2 linked regions of the Homo sapiens genome follow. The protein of the gene in region 1 binds, or shares a complex with, the protein of each later gene. Links are inferred from orthologs where the notes say so. Each region holds a gene or a part of one and is shown in the gene's direction. Other genes may lie near its edges.

The links.
Region 2: the proteins of INSC (region 1) and GPSM2 are in contact, whole or in part, in a crystal structure (PDB 3RO3), measured with the Mus musculus proteins. The link is inferred for Homo sapiens from one-to-one orthologs. Residues at the interface, in XP_006507722.1 of Mus musculus: Val72, Asp73, Ser74, Val75, Arg77, Trp78, Met79, Asp81, Leu82, Lys83, Leu84, Met85, Thr86, Glu87; in NP_083798.2 of Mus musculus: Asn210, Tyr213, Leu214, Phe218, Arg242, Ser246, Asn247, Asn250, Ile253, Phe254, Tyr265, Gln283, Tyr286, Ser287, Asn290, Thr291, Thr293, Leu294, Arg323, Trp326, Ser327, Asn330.

What each region holds. Positions count from the first base shown.
Region 1 is NC_000011.10:15,172,968-15,182,073, forward strand, and holds part of INSC (protein inscuteable homolog), read left to right. Parts: intron 1-2,773; coding exon 2,774-3,119; intron 3,120-4,143; coding exon 4,144-4,196; intron 4,197-5,356; coding exon 5,357-5,480; intron 5,481-9,106. UniProt on the Homo sapiens protein: May function as an adapter linking the Par3 complex to the GPSM1/GPSM2 complex. Involved in spindle orientation during mitosis. May regulate cell proliferation and differentiation in the developing nervous system.
Region 2 is NC_000001.11:108,878,606-108,887,711, forward strand, and holds part of GPSM2 (G-protein-signaling modulator 2), read left to right. Parts: intron 1-3,870; exon of another isoform or gene 3,871-4,020; intron 4,021-6,669; 5' UTR 6,670-6,917; coding exon 6,918-6,973; intron 6,974-9,106. UniProt on the Homo sapiens protein: Plays an important role in mitotic spindle pole organization via its interaction with NUMA1. Required for cortical dynein-dynactin complex recruitment during metaphase. Plays a role in metaphase spindle orientation.

The sequences.
Region 1 (9,106 bases):
GCCCTAATACATTCTTGGGGGAATGTGAAGCATTGGGGTTTTTGAAAGTCAGTGTGGCAACATCTATTGAATTACAATTCAGAACATATGAATGAGAGTGTTGAATGTTGCATTGTTTATAGAGGTCAGGAGCTGAACAAAAAGTGAATGCCCAGGAATGGGAAAATGGCTTAATAAGTTGTGGAATATACGCAATATGGAATAGTGTTCAAACATTGGAAAGAGTGTTTTAGGATTCTGCTGGAGGACTTGAAAGATTTCAAAGTTAAGTAAGAAGATCAAAATGCAGCAAGATGTGTATATACTATGGTCATATTTACAAAAAAAGCAATAGGTCAGAAAACCTTATAAATGTATATATACTTAGATAAAAGTCTGTGTAAGAATGCATGAGTATGGAGAAAAATATAAAATGATACTTACTAGGTTAAAGTTAGTTGGCTGAGATTGGAAGGGGTGGGCAAATATAAGGGAATGGTAATAAGATGCAGAAGATTAGAAGTTGTCTGCAATCAAACCGTACATGAGATGTGATTCTACTTAATATAAAATTAAATATGATTTCATAAGGATATATGGGCAGTAGGGTGCTGTGATTTTTGGATTTAATGGGTTTCTCTCTCTCTCTGTGTGTCTGTATACATATACATATATGTATGTGTTCACATACATATGCATGTATATGTATATGTTCAAATTCTTTACAAAATGTAATAGCTATTTCCATGAAGGGAGGCAGAGACAGAGAAATCATTGGTTATTTTTTAAAAACAATTTAAAAAGCAATTTCCTAAAAGAAATCATATGTTCAATTTCATAATTAAACATAAGATGTGTGGTTAAAAATTACATTTAAAAGCCTACAGTCAAATGGTTACATATTTCAGAAAGTCTTGCTCCTTCTCATTAAATAACTGTAAACATGAAGACATGATTTTTTAACCTCGATAACTGGAGTCTGCCTTATAATTTCAACCCTACTTGGTACCTTTGCTTCACCAGGCTGGCCTCATTGGTGCCCTTTATTTGCTATACTGACTCAGAATAAAAGCCAAATCTCCACCTTGTCCAACACAGCCCCATAGGATCTACTCCCCTCACCCCCACCTCATTGCTCTCAACTCATCTTCCACCTTGGCTGACTATTCCCATGCTACTCTGGCCTCCTTGCTATTCCTTGCACATCTCAGGACACTTCTGCCCCCAGAGCCTTTGCACTTGCTGATCTCTCTCCTTGGAGCAATTTGCCCTCAGATAGCCACATGGCATCCTTCGTCGTGTGCTTCAAGTCTTTGCTCAAGTGTCTCTTTCTCAATGAGTCTCCTCTGATCCTCTTATTTTAAATTGTGAGGTCTACTCCCCCACCCACCCCTAGCACTCTCTAGTCTTTTTTTCTGTTCTCTTTTCCTTCCTAGCATTTGCTACTTGCAACATATTACATACATTGCTCATTTATTTTGAAAATTGACTGTTCTCTCACTTGAATGTAACATTGGCTAGAGAAGTGATTATTTGTTTGCTGCTACAGTCTAGGTCTTAGAACAATACTTGACATGTTGTAGGTACTGATATTTGTAGATGAGTGAATGAGCTGGTGGCAGGTGAAGAATGTTTGAGGCAGGTAAGATCAGCGGCAGAAAGACTAATCAGAATACTGTTACAAGCCAAAGACAAAGGAACTTGCACTCAGCCTTAGTCATTAGCTATGCATGTCTTCTGTTGTGAAATGATAGTGAAATTTGTTATTGTCTTTTTAGTTTAGTTTTGTTTTCAAGCTTTACTTTTAATTGACACATAACAATTGTCTTTTAACTTCTCATTAGTTTATCTTGATTCTTTAGGCAGATCAAAATCTTTTCGAGAGTGGAGGCTTAACATCTTCATATCTGCTTTTCCCACAGTGCCTGGCACTTATATGAAATATAAGGGACTCAACAAATATACAATGCTTTATCAATGATCTGATATTACTGACTTTTACTTGACTCAGTGAATTTTAGAGTGCATTTTATTTGATTAAGATCTTAGGAACTAATCTATGTTCTCATGCTGTTGTACTAAATATAGTTAATTTTGTTCCATTACAAAAGTAATATACATGCTCACTATAGAAAATTTGGAAACTAGAGAAAAGCTGAAAAAAATGAAAAAGACTTTAGTTACATTACTCCTTAAGAGCCTTTAGCATTGTAATGTGTTTCCTTTAAATATTTTTCCTAGATGGAGCTTTCTAACATTATTGTAATAATTGTGTGTTTACATTTCCATTTTTGCATATTAGCACACACATTTTTCTTAGCTATAAACTTTTGGAAAGCATCATTTTAAATAATTGCGTACTACATAATCATAGCTATACCATAGCTCACTTAGTGTAACCATTATTTGATATTTAGGCTATTTCCATTAACTTTTTTTAAAGAGATGGGATCTTGCTATGTTGCCCAGGCTGGTCTTGAACTCCTGGCCTCAAGCAATATTCCTGCCTCACCCTTCCATTTCCCCCTTATTGTAAAGATCATTGGCTACTCTGTCAGACATAATTACCTGTTGCTTGTTAGTCTGGTCATCTGCCCTTAAAACTTTATGCTTCAGACTTCTTATCCATAAGATGAAGAGAATGAGAAATGACTGAGAATATCAAGGTGCATGAATGGGAGAAACACTGCTAAACATATAATAGGTGCTTAGTAAATATCAGATGGCCTAGAATTGAGACCTTTGGAAATCATGGGGTGTTGATAATTATCGTGGTGCTGTTTCCTGGTTGCAGGCTACACCTGATGCAGGTGGACTCAGTCCAGCGCTGGATGGAAGATCTGAAGCTCATGACCGAGTGCGAGTGCATGTGTGTCCTGCAGGCCAAGCCCATCAGCCTGGAAGAGGATGCACAGGGTGACCTCATCCTGGCAGGTGGCCCTGGCCCTGGAGACCCCCTGCAGCTGCTGCTCAAACGGGGTTGGGTCATTAGCACAGAGCTGCGCAGGATCGGGCAGAAGCTGGCCCAGGACCGCTGGGCACGGGTGCACAGCATGAGCGTGCGTCTGACCTGCCATGCCCGCTCCATGGTCAGCGAGTACAGTGCTGTCAGCAGGAACTCCTTGAAGGAAATGGGCGAGGTCAGCTGCCCTGGGATAGGAGTGGGCGGGAACTGGAAGTCAGGGTGCTTTAGAGAAGAGTGGGTTTGAATCATGTGGTGTCTGAATCTTTTTTGCTCCAGAAGCCTTTCTCCCCTTCCAGTAAAGGAGGAAAGAAAGAGAGTGGAATCTTTACTGAGTGCCTACTATGTGGTGGACATTGTGCTAGGTGTTTTTTTTTTACATGTATCTCATTTAACCTGCACAACCTGTGAGGTAGGTGCCACTACTTTGAGAAGCTGTGCAGTGGTTGAATATATTGACTTTAATGCCAGACTGCTTGGGTTGAAATGTTAGCTCTGCTATGTGGACCTCAGCAAGTTACTTAACTTCTCTGTGTCCCAGTTCCTTCATCCTAAAAGGTATAATAATATAATTTATTTTATAAATTTGTTGTGAGGACTAGATGAATTGTTATATGCAAAACACTTAAAGCAATTGATTAAAAATGTTAGGATTACCTTTATTTTATAGATGAGGAAACAAAAGTTCTAAGAGGCCAAATAATTTATTTAAAGTTACGCAGTGAATGGTGTAATAAGTAGGGTCCAATCTAAGCTTTTCTGAGTCCACAGCCCATGACTTTGAATCTTCTTCTCAAAGCCCAAGGTGAACCATTAAAAATCTCCCTTGTTATTAATTCTCTTTCATCATTCTCATTTCACATTAGTGCTTTGCCCTTTGCCTCGAACTTTTCCTTCCTTAGCTTTGCAGACATTAAAACTTCTCTTCATTCTTCAAAACCCAGCTCAAATGCCCCTTCTTTCCTGAAGCTTCCCAGCTTCCTCAGCATAAATAACTGCTCAGTTTCATTTTCTTATACTCCCAAAGCAGCCTACCGTGAGCTCTTTCACCACCTGTATCACACTGTGTTATATTTTAACTGCCTGTTCCCCAAGTCACATTAATTGATTCTTCATGTTTAATGTCCCCGTGTGCTCAGCACAGCAGTTGGTCCTCAGTTAATGCTTACTGAGTTGAATAAAATGGACTTATTTTTCTACAGATTGAGAAGCTGCTAATGGAGAAATGCTCGGAGCTCTCGGCAGTCACAGAGAGGTAAATTTGGACCATAGATCTCCCAGGGTCTGCCCACCCGACCTCTGGCAGGAGAAGGGGCTGGTATCTTCTCCCAGAGGGAGAATGGGAATGGGAGGCGTGGTGGTGGTTTCAGAGTTTCCTTTTTCTGACTTTTATCAGAAATCTTAAAATATTCTCTTGAAATTTTCTGCCCCATGTTCAGGCCCTAGGGATAGGGTAAAAGGCAGAGGAGAGGCCTGGGCATAGGAAGAAAGAGGATTTTCTAGGAGTTGGTAACAAGGAAAAGGTTTCCCACAGCTTTGGGAAGACCCACAGATCCCCAAAGTCAAGGCAAGAGTCAAGGCAAGGTGAAAGCCGACACTCACACCCTTACACACGCACATACACATAGACTTCAATGCCCACACTCACTTTCTCATATACAGATATATAAACACATGCTTGGACCAGCACAGAAATACATTCACACCCTTTCCTCCATATTTCACACACATAAACCTACATATGTTTATACTCAGATATGTACACACACTCAGCCTCACATGTATACACACCCAGGTGTGTGTTGACTTTTTCCTTCACCCTTCCCAGAGCCTGTGTCCTGAAGATAAAACCTGAGCTCCCTGAGGTCTTTTGCTTTCCTGGGTAGAACACTGTCAGGCCACAGGAGTAAATTGGAACCTGATCCCCCTCTGTTTTTCTTGTCTGGGAAGAAAATTCTCAAGGCTCTCTGCACACTCTAGGCAGCCATTTCTTAAAGGGCCACAGGCATTGCTATCCACCTTTTCAGAGCTCACTAGCAATACCTGGCACTTGGCACCTCTCTTTGAAGCTTCTTGCCCCTTCATCTCCCACCCCAACATCACAGAGAAGATAGACCCTGGCTGCAATGATGGCAGATTCTGCAGGGAGAAGCCCAGAGGTATAGATTTTCCACATTCTGATGGCCTTTCTTCCTGTTGATGTGGACTGGTAGTCCTCATCTCAGGCCAGCACATCTCTGCACACTAAGAGACCAGTGGGCAAGCCAGCTGTGGAATATTCCATCTCTGACTCCCAGTTGCCAATGTCTTCAGCACACACCAGGCTTGTAGCAGGTCCAGTTCTGGCCCGTGCAACATTTCTGGGCTGACCACATGCCCTTTCCAGTGGCCCACCCCATGGTTTCTTCTCTTCAGGTGCCTTCAGGTTGAGAATGAGCATGTCCTGAAGTCAATGAAGGCCTGCGTGAGTGAGACCCTGAGCATGCTGGGCCAGCACTTTGGTCAGCTGCTGGAGCTGGCCCTGACACGGGAGGTTCAGGTCAGTGCAGGCTGGGCTGCAGGGAGGGGTGCTTGTGTGGACCCTTGGAGGAAAGGAGAGAAAGAGGGGCTGAGCCAGGCTTGGGGAAGCTACTGATGTGGACTTTATTGGGAAACATCTTACTCAAACCACCAAAGTCAACTCCAGCATTTGTGAAACAAAACTGTCAGAGCTGGGCTGAGGCTTCCTGAGCACCTAACCCAACTCTGCATTTTCCAGATGTGAAAACTGGAGCCCAGAGTGGGGAGAAACTTATCCAAGGTCACACAGCAAGATGGTGGCAGAGCCCAGCATCTCCCAATTCTACTTTCATTATTACTCCCACCCTTCCCAGAGCCTGTGTCCTGAAGATAAAACCTGAGCTCCCTGAGGTCTTTTGCTTTCCTGGGTAGAACACTGTCAGGCCACAGGAGTAAATTGGAACCTGATCCCCCTCTTCTCTGTTGAGTTAATGTTCACAGTTTACCCGATGGGTCCTTACTATCCTGAAAGAATTGAGGCACCTGCAGGGAATAAGCTAATTCTAGAAATCCTGACAACAGAGAAGAATCTAGAAAGATCATATAGTCTAGCCCCTGCCTCTAGGCAGGCTTGTGCTTGATTCCAGAAAGAGGGAGGGATTTGGAGCCTGGCCTATCTACTTTCTATCTGTGGTTCACCATGGAGCCTCAGTTAAGTTCCTGAACCTCTCTCAGCCTCGTTTTCCTCCTCTATAAATTGGTAAACCTTCTCCAGAAGAAAAGTGAGAGGACTAAGCAAAGGCATATGGAAGGTGTTTAGCACATAGTGTGGGTTAAATACATGTTATTTCCCTCCCTTACCCTTTGCTATTTTAAAAACCTCCCAGTAAAGCAGATTCCATAAGGTTTTCATTATGAAAGGTATTTATGGTTATTTATAGTTACAGAAATATTGTGTTACATATTTGCCATTCTTTTCCCACCACCAAATAAAAGCCTACCACAAATAACAAATCTCTTTCCATGTCGGCTCCTCTCCAAATTCAGCCTCTCTGCCGAGCCCAGGGTTTGCTTTCTCTCCTTCCTGAGTGTTTGGTTGGTTTGGTGCAGGCCCTTCTGGCTTGACTGACATGCTGGTCCTGCCTCACCCCCACTCCTCCCACAGGCCCCCATGTCAGTGCAGCAGGTCCTGGGTATTATCACCCCCGACCCCAACAACAGGAAGGTCCTCAAGGGCCACTCTCCATGTCTTGACAGGGACAAAGGGAAGGAAGGGCCACAGGCTGGGGTGCTGGGGCAGCACTTGGAGCTGATGAGCCAGTGCTGACAATCACATGCAGGGGCAGGTGGTGATCAACCATCAAGTCCAGAGGGACCCAAGGGACACAAGGACCAAAATGGACAAAAAAGTCGAGGGACTGATGAGCAAGAAATATTGGAGTTAGTGGTGGAGAGGGAGACCTGGAGCAACTTCTGAGCAGGGGTACAGGTGCTGGCTGTTGCTTTTTATGCCATTTTTGTGACCACTTTCCTGAAAGTGCCAGGTTCAATTAAAAGGGCTGAAAATGGCTGGACGCAGTGGCTCACGCCTGTAATTCCAGCACTTTGGGAGGCCAAGGCGGGCAGATCACGAGGTCAGGAGATCGAAACCATCCTGGCTAACGTGGTGAAACCCCATCTGTACTGAAAATGCAAAAAAAATAAGCCGGGCATGGTGGCGAGCACCTGTAGTCCCAGCTACTCAGGAGGCTGAGGCAGGAGAATGGTGTGAACCTGGGAGGCGGAGCTTGCAGTGAGGGGAGATCGCGCCACTGCACTCCAGCCTGGGCAACAGAGTGAGACTCCGTCTCAAAAAAAACAAACAAAACAAAACAAACAAACAAACAAACAAAAAGGGCTGAAAAAGAGGTGTTAAACTGTGAGTGAAAGCCAGCTGGGTTTGGAATTAGTCATCAGTGCTTTCTATGAGGCAGCAAAGAGGCAGGGTATCTTTGATGCTTTAGGTCAGAAGAGCCTGGGAAAATCTCCCTGGGCTTGCTTGGAGCCTACTTCCCTGGCCTTTGGGCTGTATAGTTGAATCCATTCTGCTATTTCTTCATTCTGATCATATTCAGGGTGAAATTCCTGATCTGGTGCTCCTACTTCCCCAGCTGTTCCCTGCTCTATTGCCAGGTCTGACCACCTGGTTCATTGATGCCTGGCCTGGAAGCTGAGTAGACCAGCTCCTGCCCTGTTAGAGTGGGTTCCTTATTGGCCTCCCTCTCATGGTAGGAGTGAGGGGGGGGGCGGGGGGGGGTGGTGGCCACAGAGTGTTGTCCTCCATTCATCTGCATATTAGTTTTCTTCCTGATAACCCCCATTCCTGGTGCTTTCCCCCTTCCCTGCCAGCAAGTCCCATGATTTCCTCCATGCCCTTTTAAGGGCTGAGCTTACCATGCTCATAATATATTTTTGGCTGATCTTTGGCTTCTTTTTATATTAGAAAGTTTCCATACAGGGCAGCAGTGACATCAGGAGATATATTGACTGAAGACAGGGTAACTTGTGTTCAGTGTTGTAAGCATGTGTTTCTTAAACTAGTGACTCAAATATTGTTCCTTAGGATGTTAGTAATTATACCAGGATCTTACATTTGTGCCGTCTTGATGTAAATGAAATCAAATCTATTTCTTTACATCAAAATTTGTCTTATGATGTGCCGGTCTGCTTTGCAAATCTTCCAAAAGGTCCTCAAGCACTTATAGTATTTCTTGTCTGACCTGCAGCTTCCATAGGCAGGGGTTTTGGTTTGTTTTGCTCGTGCATATATCTCTAGTGACTAGAACAGTATCTGGCATAGAATGTTAAGCAACATATTCCAAACTTTCAGGGTCACAGATTTAAAAATATTATTAAAGCACCTATTTACTTCTTCTGAGATGCTGGTGTTTTAGGAAATGCAATTCGAGAAACATTCTTTTAGCACTAAGAAGTCGTGTGGGCTCTTGAGCAGAGGAACAAATCTCCCCACCCCCTTCACCCCAGTATTAAGGGCTTTTTGGACTCCTTCAATTATGGTTGGAAAGAATGGTACAAACTGAGAAGTCCTGAAGGAACCTCCCATTGTTGTACAGACAGCCTGGACTAAAGCTGCTGAAAGAAACCCAGCTCCCCACACACTGGAATGAGGCCTTCCTGGCTGAGATGAACAAAGTATAAAAATTGAAGTGATTGTATTAACCCAAGAATCTGGGACTTTGGATTATTCCTAGAGTAAAAGGATTTAAGTTTTTTCTTTTCCTTTATTTTTTCCCAGGTAACTTTAAAATGGGATAGGAGCATATCAAAATTTTGGAAATCTTTATGTTTGTCATCATGCAAGTATGTTTGGATTATCTTTGTATTGCCATTTACTCTCGTTGCAGCTTCTACTTACCTATATTGGGCAACATGGCTGAGCAAAATCTGCTCAGTGGGAGAGTGGGAAATATAATAGGAAGCAAATTTCAATCTTTTTACTTTTAGGAATAATCCAAAGTCCCAAATTCTCAGGTTAGTACAATCTCTTCAATTTTCATACTCTGTTCATCTCAGCCAGGAGGGCCTCATTCCAGTGTGTGGGGAGTTGGGTTTCCTTCAGCAGCTGTAGTCCAGGCTGTCTCTTCAATAATGGGAGGGGTTCCTTCA
Region 2 (9,106 bases), on another chromosome or scaffold:
GATCTATCTTTAGAAATTTGTAATTAGTTCTCTGGAATTTTAAAATGGAAAATCTGACATAGATTTAGGTTATTCTAAATTTATTTGAATATATATTAAATATGTCTATTTTATAATAACAGTTACTGTTATTACTACAGCACTATGTTGAGTACTTTTGTTATGTATCAGAGCCAGGTGCTGGGTCAGGTGCTTTATAAATCATGTCTGTAATTATCACAGCACATTTTAGGTAAGTGTCATTATGCCCACACCAACTGAGAGTTTAGCGTAAGATCATATAACTAATAAGTCACTGTGCCGAGATTCAAATCATGGCCTGATCCCAAAGCACATGCTGTATTGCTTCTGTGTGTCTGTTTAAATCTCTGCTGTGTCTCTGGATTCCATTTGTAGGGACAAGTTCTACTTTAAAGATGCCTTTAGGTGCTGTGTTTTGTTGTAGCTTCGCAGAAATATTTCAATCTTTCTGTTGGAACTATCTTGCTTCATTATTTTATAAATCATCTTATAAATCACATTATATTTTCAATATCTTCTTAATCATCTTTATACAAAACATAAGTGAAGAGTAAGACTTTTCTGAGTTTCTTACATAAATATGAATAGAATCTTTACTGTGGAGAAGAAATGTATTACAGTCCGGTTTTCTCACTATTGTAGGATTCTTTGGCCTCGTCATAATTCCTGTCTTCTTCCCAGGGAAGAAATTAAAGTTTGTTGGGCCTCTCTTATGTGCAAAGCAATGTCGTTGGTGTTGTGAGATGACAAGAAAATGCTTCCTATTCAGTAGTTGTTTCTGGAGTTTTTGTAGTATTTTTCTTTTCTCCCCATTCCTGCCTTATATGTTGCTGCTGGTTTATCTTCCTAGCAGAGATCCAACTTGGCTATTCCTTTGTGGGGAAAAAATACCAGCAAGGTTCCCCATTGTGTAAATAAAAGGCTGAGGCCGGGTACGGTGGCTCACGCCTGTAATCCCAGCACTTTGGGAGGCCGAGGTGGGCGGATCACGAGGTCAGGAGTTCAACACCAGCCTGACCAACGTGGTGAAACCCCGTCTGTACTAAAAATACAATAGTTAGCCCAGTGTGGTGGCACACGCCTGTAATCCAAGCTACTCAGGAGGCTGAGGCAGGGAGGCGGAGGTTGCAGTGAGCCGAGATCGCGCCACTGCACTCCAGCCCGGGTGACAGATCAAGACTCCATCTCAAAAAAAAAGGGGGGGCTGAATATGAATATATGCTTCTGCCACATGTTCAGAGTCCCTCACAGTTTGTTACTGTTCTACCTTCTCAGCCTTCTCTTTCACTACTCTGAATACTGTGTGCTTATCCTGGAACACATTCTGTGCATTTCTACCCTCCCTTTTTCTTGAGCCATTCTTTTCCCTTGACTGGAATGCCTTTCCTTCATTTGGCTAATAAGATCTACCCATCCTTCAAGGTGCTGTACAAAATTCCTTGCTTCCAAAAAGTTTTCCCTGGTCCTTTTCAGTTAGAATTATTATTCCCATATTATCACAAAACATTATTGAATAGAAACATTTATTTTCCCACAGAATGGTGATAACTTTTGGGAAGAGAAGACAAAATCATGTTTAATATATTTTCCTATGGAGAATTCTAAACTCAAACTCTCTAGGGACCCTTTCTAAGCATTTATAATATTTCTGCATTTGGGATTTATTTCTGCTTTAAAATGTGTTTGGGTCAGGTGCAGTGGCTCACACCTGTAATCCCAGCACTTTGAGGGGCCCAGGTGGGCGGATCACTTGAGACCAGGAGTCGAGACCAGCCTGCCCAACATGGCGAAACCCTGTCTCTGATAAAAATACAAAAATTAGCCAGGCGTGGTGCTGGGCACCTGTGGGAGGCTGAGAGAGGAGAATCACTTGAACCCAGGACGTGGAGGTTACAGTGAGCCAAGATGGCGCCACTGCACTCCAGCCTGGGCGACAGAGTGAGACTCCGTCTCAAAAAAAAAAAAAACAATGCTTAGTGGAAAGGACCATTTCTTTTCTATTTCACTATTGAGCTTTAAAATTATGTATATGTATTAATTGATTGAAGCTGATGACTGGACCATCGTTGGTAATAATAAATGGCTATGCTTACCAAAAAGGTTTATATATAGTTCAGATGATCTAACCTGGTGGCAAGAAAAGTAAATTATATTTATTGTCTGATGAATGTTACCAGTTTGTGTAGATCCATGGATGGAAGAAACAGACCAAAAACAAACAAAGAAACAGACCAAAAGTTATTGGCATTTAAGTGGCAGTCAGGATCAGATAGTTTAGATAAATTCGAAGAAGCACAAAATGTAACCTGGTTTGCAAACTTTTTACTGCCAGTGGAGTAAAGCAGGGCTAGGATTTCTTTGATAAAGAGCTAGCCTTTCTTGTCTGCTCTGATTGCATACCTTGGACAGTGCCTGGAAGTCCACCTAGCTGTCTAAAGGGAGTCTGTCTATTTTGACTTCCTAATCAGATAATTAAATGTGAGGCAGTTAGAGTTATGTACTAGTTGATCTTTCTATATGTCTCTGTCAATTCCCGGGATATGGAAAAAATGATTGCCTTTTCTTTATGGTTAGATGCCGTGATCTAGCAATTTTGTTAATTTTGAGGTTTTTGGAGCATTGCTTGGAAGATGCTATTAAGAGACAGATTTGTTCCTTGCAGATTGTTAGTTGTAAATAGTAGTGGAGGTTGGAGGTTGAACTTGATGACTTCTCAATATCCTTTCAAACCTACAAATTATTTTCCAGTTCTTCGTCCTGTGATTAAATTTTCTTATCCTAATGATCAAATTTGTAATTTAATATTTGTTGCAAATTTTACTAGTCTTACACTATATACACACACATTGTATCTAGGAAGTAGGTTTGTTAACTCCATGTAATGAGGAACATGAGTGAACACATTATTGCTAAATTGGCTAGAGAGTTCTTAAAACATGAATCATGAATCAAGAATTGCTTGTTTGTTCAGTGAATATTTTTTTGTGTGAAGTGCTACCTAATTGTTATGGAGATTGTAATGTAAGAGGCACTTTTAAAGATATTCTTCCCTTGAGAATAGTAAGACTATATTATAAATTGCTCTTATTGAAATAGTGAATAGCATTCTGTCTTCTTGCTTATTTTAATGGTCTTAGAAATGGTTCTTTCTACATGCAGTTTTCATCAAGTAAAATATTTTGCAACTTTATTTATATTCATTTACTTATTCGTTAATTTGTGAAACATGTAAATGCTACATGTTTACATCTTAAGGAGTATGAAATTAACATTTTATAATTGCAAAATTTAGAATTTCATTAAGAACTCATGGATGAGAACAATATTTTGTTTTATTTTTTTAGAGACAGGGTCTCACTCTGTGGCCCAGACTGGAGTGCAGTGGTGCAATCATCGATTACTATAACCTCCAACTCCTGGGCTCAAGCAATCCTCCTGCCTCATCCTCCCAAGTAGCTGGGGCTATAGTCACAGGCCACCACACCTGGCTGATTTTTCAATTTTTTGTAGAAACGGGGTCTTGTACGTTGCCTGGGCTGGTCTTGAACTGTTGGTCTCAAGTGATCCTTCCACCTTGGTCTCCCAAAGCACTGGGATTACAGATGTCAGCCACCGGGCCTACCTAAGAAAAATATTTAAATTTAATATCAGTATCTGTGGGGAATTGGTTCCAGGACCCCCTGAGGATACCAAAATCCATGGATGCTCAAGTTCCTTATATAACATGGTATAGTATTTGCATATAACCTATACGCATCTTCCCACAAACTTTTAATCCTCTCTAGATTATTTATGATACCTAATACGATGTAAATGCTATGTAAATAGTTGTTATATGGTATTGTTTAGGGAACAATGCCAAGGAAAAAAGTCTACATGTTCAGTAGAGACACAACTTTTCATTTTCTTTCCTGAATATTTTTGATACGCGGTTGGTTGAATCCACTATGCAGAACCCACAGATCTGGAGGACCTACTATAATTTAATTTAATTCTAAGGTAAGTTAATTCTAATACCTCTCTTTCTGCTCCATTTTATAAATAACAGCCCAAACCTCATAGTGGATAACGGGAGATAATATCATTGCCAGTTTAGCTGTTTGTGTAATCTAGACGCCTTTGGAGCTATTGCAATGAGTATCCACACTAATTCCCTTTATTAATTTTTTTATTAAGGAAAAAAGAGGCACAGTGGAATTCTGAACAAAAGGAAAAGAGATTTGATGTGTTGATAGCTGCTATTTGATGTGTTGATAGCTGCTACCTTTTTGTTCTTTCTTAAAATACTGCTCCCTAGCCCGTGCTGTGGCATGCACCTGTAGTCCCAGCTACTTGGGAGGTTGAAGCGAGAGGATCACCAAGAGTTCCAGGCTGCAGTGTGCTATGATTGTGATGTGAATAGCCACTGTACTCCAACCTGGGCAACATAGCAAGATCCCATCTCTAAAAAAACAAAACAACAACAAAAGATAGTGCTTCCTTTGTTGGCCAAGGGAAGAGATAAGAGGAGTACTATTTTGTGTTTCTTGCAGGCTAAACTTGTTATTAATGTGAAAACCTCATTTCCTCTTGGAAACTTCATCAGTATTCCCAAGGCTGTTTCTTTCTACCTTCCCTCCTTTCACCTTCTGCTCTGTTCCCTATTAACTTCTAGCTGTACTTAATTAACAGAGCAGTGAGTATTCATTAGTCTGGTTTATGATATAGCTGAAATACTTAAAAGGATGTTATATAGAAGAGGAATTAGGCTTTATTGTATATGGCAGCAGAAGGAAGAAGTAGAACAAATGGGTAGAAATGGAAGAATTGCTCAAAGTATGGAACGATTTTCTTACAGGAATATTCAAAATTAAGATTAGCTGCTTTATGACCTATGTAGGAATGCTATAGTAAGATAGTGGACTAACTGACCTCTAGGATTGTTTATAACACTGAGATTCCAGGACTTTATGATTGTATATCTACCAATTTATCTCATATATGTATATGTATATCCTTCTTTGTCTTTCTCAACTGTTATCTCAGAGGTTATAGTTTATGTCTGATATGCTGTAGCTCTCTCTAATGTATCGGTATGGATTCATTTTTATTTAAATATTCTCAGTCTTTATCACTGAAGATTTTACCTTTATTCCTCTCTTTTTCTTTCTCACCCTCCTATTAGATATATTATAGAGCTGCTCATTTTGTCCTCCTTTTCTCTGAACTTCTCTTTATTATTTTTCATCTGCTTATTCTTTCTTTAGCTGCTTAACTAGTACATTGAGGGTTTGTTGTTGTTGTTGTTGTTGTTTTGGTGGGGGCAGACAGAGTTGCACTGTGTCGCCTGGGCTGGAGCGCAGTGGCATAATCTTGGCTCACTGCAACCTCCGCCTCCCGGGTTCAGGCTCACTGCAACCTCCACCTCCCGGGTTCAAGTGATTCTCATGCCTCAGCCTCCTGAGTAGCTGGGATTACAGGCTTGCATCACCACACCTGGCTAACTTTTGTATTTTTAGTAGAGACAGGGTTTCACCGTGTTGGCTAGGCTGGTCTTGAACTCCTGGCCTCAAGTGATCACCTGTGTCTGCCTCCCAAAGTGCTGGGATTACAGGCATGAGCCATTGCACCTGGCCCTAACTAGTACATTGAGTTATTAATATCAGTGTTCATGGTAGTTTTTTGTTTCATTTTGTTTTGGGGCAGGGTCTTGCTCTGTCAACCAGGCTGGAGTGCAGTGGCATGAATATTAATACTGTTAGTAACAGCAATCCAAAAAACTATAATCCAAATGTCCATCAACAGCAGAATGAAAAATACATTTGGTATACAATGGAATATACATGCAAGTTGTAGCTATGCACAACAATTGAGAAAAATCTCAGAAACAACGTTCAGCAAAATCATATAAAACTAAATGGTATCTTATTTAGGACTATACTGACATTCGTGTTAAAGTTGTAAAGACAAGCAAAGGAATAAGGAACAAAATACAGTTTAGAAATCACCTTAGAGGGAAAAGGAAGGAGATGGGTTAGGTTGGACTACCCAGGAGACTTTAAAGGCAGGTAATGTTCTTATTTTAGACTGAATGGTGTTATATAAATGTTTGTTGTGTCATTCTTTTTACCATATACATATTTCCCAAATGTCTTTTGTACCTACCCAATATTAATAAAAAACATTTTAAAGACCTTAAAGAGTTTAAGTAGAATATATTTTGAAAGCAAATGAATCCAACTATAACCGAAGTATCAGTGTGATATCTTCTTTGAAGAAATAAATTTACTGAGTTTGGAGTTGACTATTTCAAATAATTATTGAATTTTCATTTGATTTGTTAATAGTAGTTTTTAAAAGTTTGAAGCAGCAATTTTGTTTTTAGATGCTAATATGATACATACTGTTCTTTTTTGTTTATAGCAGAAAATATTACATAAAAGTATTAAATTTCAAACATATTTTAAAAATTACAGTTCTCAAATCTCATCTATTCCCACCCCTATTTAGAAGCTCCATGATGACAGTTAAGCCCTGTGCTATCTTCTGTATTGATTGACATGACAGCAGTCTGCAGAGTTAGCTTGTGATTATGTACAGCTCAGGGTTACTGTAGGTTGTTCTTTGAAAATAGGACTTCAAGCAAAGCATCTTGTATTCCTTTTGCAGAAATGTTGCTGAAGTGCTGCTGAAAGGGCCAGAGATGCAAGGATTTGGGATACATTTTGAACCTTTAAGCTGTCTGACATTGACCTCCTTTCATTATTAATAAAGAAGAATCAGGAGCTTAGGATGTATTAACACCAACTCATTAATATACTAACCGGACAATGTTCTACAAACAATTCTACATTGTAAAGGACTGGATTGGCACAAAATAAAATAATTTTATTTTATTCAGCTTATAATATGACTCGATGGAGGAAAATTTGATAAGCATGAGAGAAGACCATTCTTTTCATGTTCGTTACAGGTAAGACTATTGCTGTCTTAATGGATGACTTTTAATCCTTATTTTAAAGTGTTTTTAACTCTGATGACCATTTCAAGTTTCAGTTGAAAATACTCAAATATACCAGCCATAGTATTGTCTGTAGACAATATTTTCTTTTTGTTGTAAGTTTTCCTTTCTGTAAGAAAATGATAGTAGAGACCAATTATGTACTATGGTTTGTTTAATGTTCTCTGGAAGAGTTTATGAATAATTTCTTTATAATTTGTAACTTTTTATGTAATGCAAATATGTAAATGAAATATGTTTGAAAATCTTTGGGGCTAAAAGGTGGATTTTTTAAAAATGTGGTCAGCTGAAGGACCAAACCTTTGCATTGTAATTTAATGTGATCTTTTAGACATGAACTTTTTATTTTTGATTTATTTTTATTTTTTGTAGTGTATTGTTTTGATTCCCTTCTCATTTCCTTTTTTTGTATATTTTTTATTTTATTAATTTTACTTTTTCTATATTATCAGAGATGGGAGTCTCACTATATTGCCCAGGCAAGTCTCAAACTCCTGGGCTCAAGCAATCCTCCTGCCTCAGCCTCCAGAGTAGCAGGAACTACAGGTGTGTGCCACTGCACCTGGCTTTTTATTTTATCTTTAAAGGAAATTTTATTTCACAACCATTATTACTGTTTTAAATATGTACCTAATCCACATTAATATAAATACATTATTATTAAAATACAAACAAGCGCTGTTCAAAAGAAATGTCATTTTTAAGCTTAATGTCTAGTGACATTTTGTGTTGTTTTGCTGATTTAATACTTAAGACCACATTTTTACATGAAGTAGTGGTTTGGTAATCCCTAATTTACTCCAGAAAGCAAGTCAGGCTGAGGAAAGGCACCCACATGCATTCTCTCACAAGCTTCACGGTCCCTAGGGAAATGGCCTGGCTCCTCTAGGACTTACAGTGTTCCCTTGGATGCCCAAATGGATTGTCTACATTCCTGGTAGAAGGTTGCAGATTGTAAGGACCAGTGTTCCCACCTTTGTTCTGCATCCACAAGTGTCTTTCACAAATACAACACACTCCCTTTGGCTACACCTTATATATAATAGGTTATGCACATGTATGTGTGTTGGTGGGGGTGGATGCTTCCCACTGATCTAGATCAGGATCCAAATCAGACATACACATCAGGAAAGGAGGGAAGATAGCCAGGAAGTGATAGCTGGGCAGAATGAAGGTACAGAATGGGCAGGTCTTCCTGATTTTTCAGAAGAGCCCAGGAAATCTGAAAATCTGAAGAGTGTGTGTGTGTGTGTTTTTGTGTTTTTGTTTTTTTTTTTTTGGAGACAGTCTCACTCTGACGCCCAGGCTGGAGTGCAGTGGCACGAGTTTGGCTCACTGTAACCTCCGCCTCCCATGTTAAAGCGATTCTCTTGTCTCAGCTTCCCGAGTAGCTGGGATTATAGGCGTGTGTCACCACGCCCAGCTAATTTTTTGTATTTTTAGTAGATACAGGGTTTTGCCATATTGACCAGGCTGGTCTTGAGCTCCTGGCCTCAAGTGATATGCCCGCCTTGGCCTCCCAAAGTGCTGGGATTATAGGCATGAGCCACCAAGCCCGGCCGGAAATCTAAATCTTTATTGTGCTGTCTCCAAATTCTGAAATGTTGGCAGCTAATGCAAATTTTTTTTTAAAAATGTGGGTTGAACATTTTAAGGAGGAGAAAGAGGCCTGTAACAGACACAACTCTCTAAAAAACCACACAGGCAGGTGGGGGAGGTAGAGCTCAAGGTTTTGAGAAAGCTGCTCTCCAGGACGTAACATACACTTACCCTGGGACTCCGAGGCGCTAACCCTCCTGCACCTCGAGGCCCAGAGCACCAAGTGCGATGTCCCCATCTCCTGGCCTTGCCCACCTCATTGCCCTCCATATCTCCTCATCACACCTTCGATTCCCCAAACCCCATAGGTTTCTCTGCCTCCCAGACTTTGCCCCTTATTCCTTGGATGGCCTAGAATGCCATTACCTGCCATCCTCCCAGGCACTGCCTGTTGCAAGCCAGGCTCCCATTCTCATTCCTCACTCCTAGAGGGTTGCATACAGACCTTCCTATTGCACCCTTCTAGATGGGCTGCTTAGGTCAGTG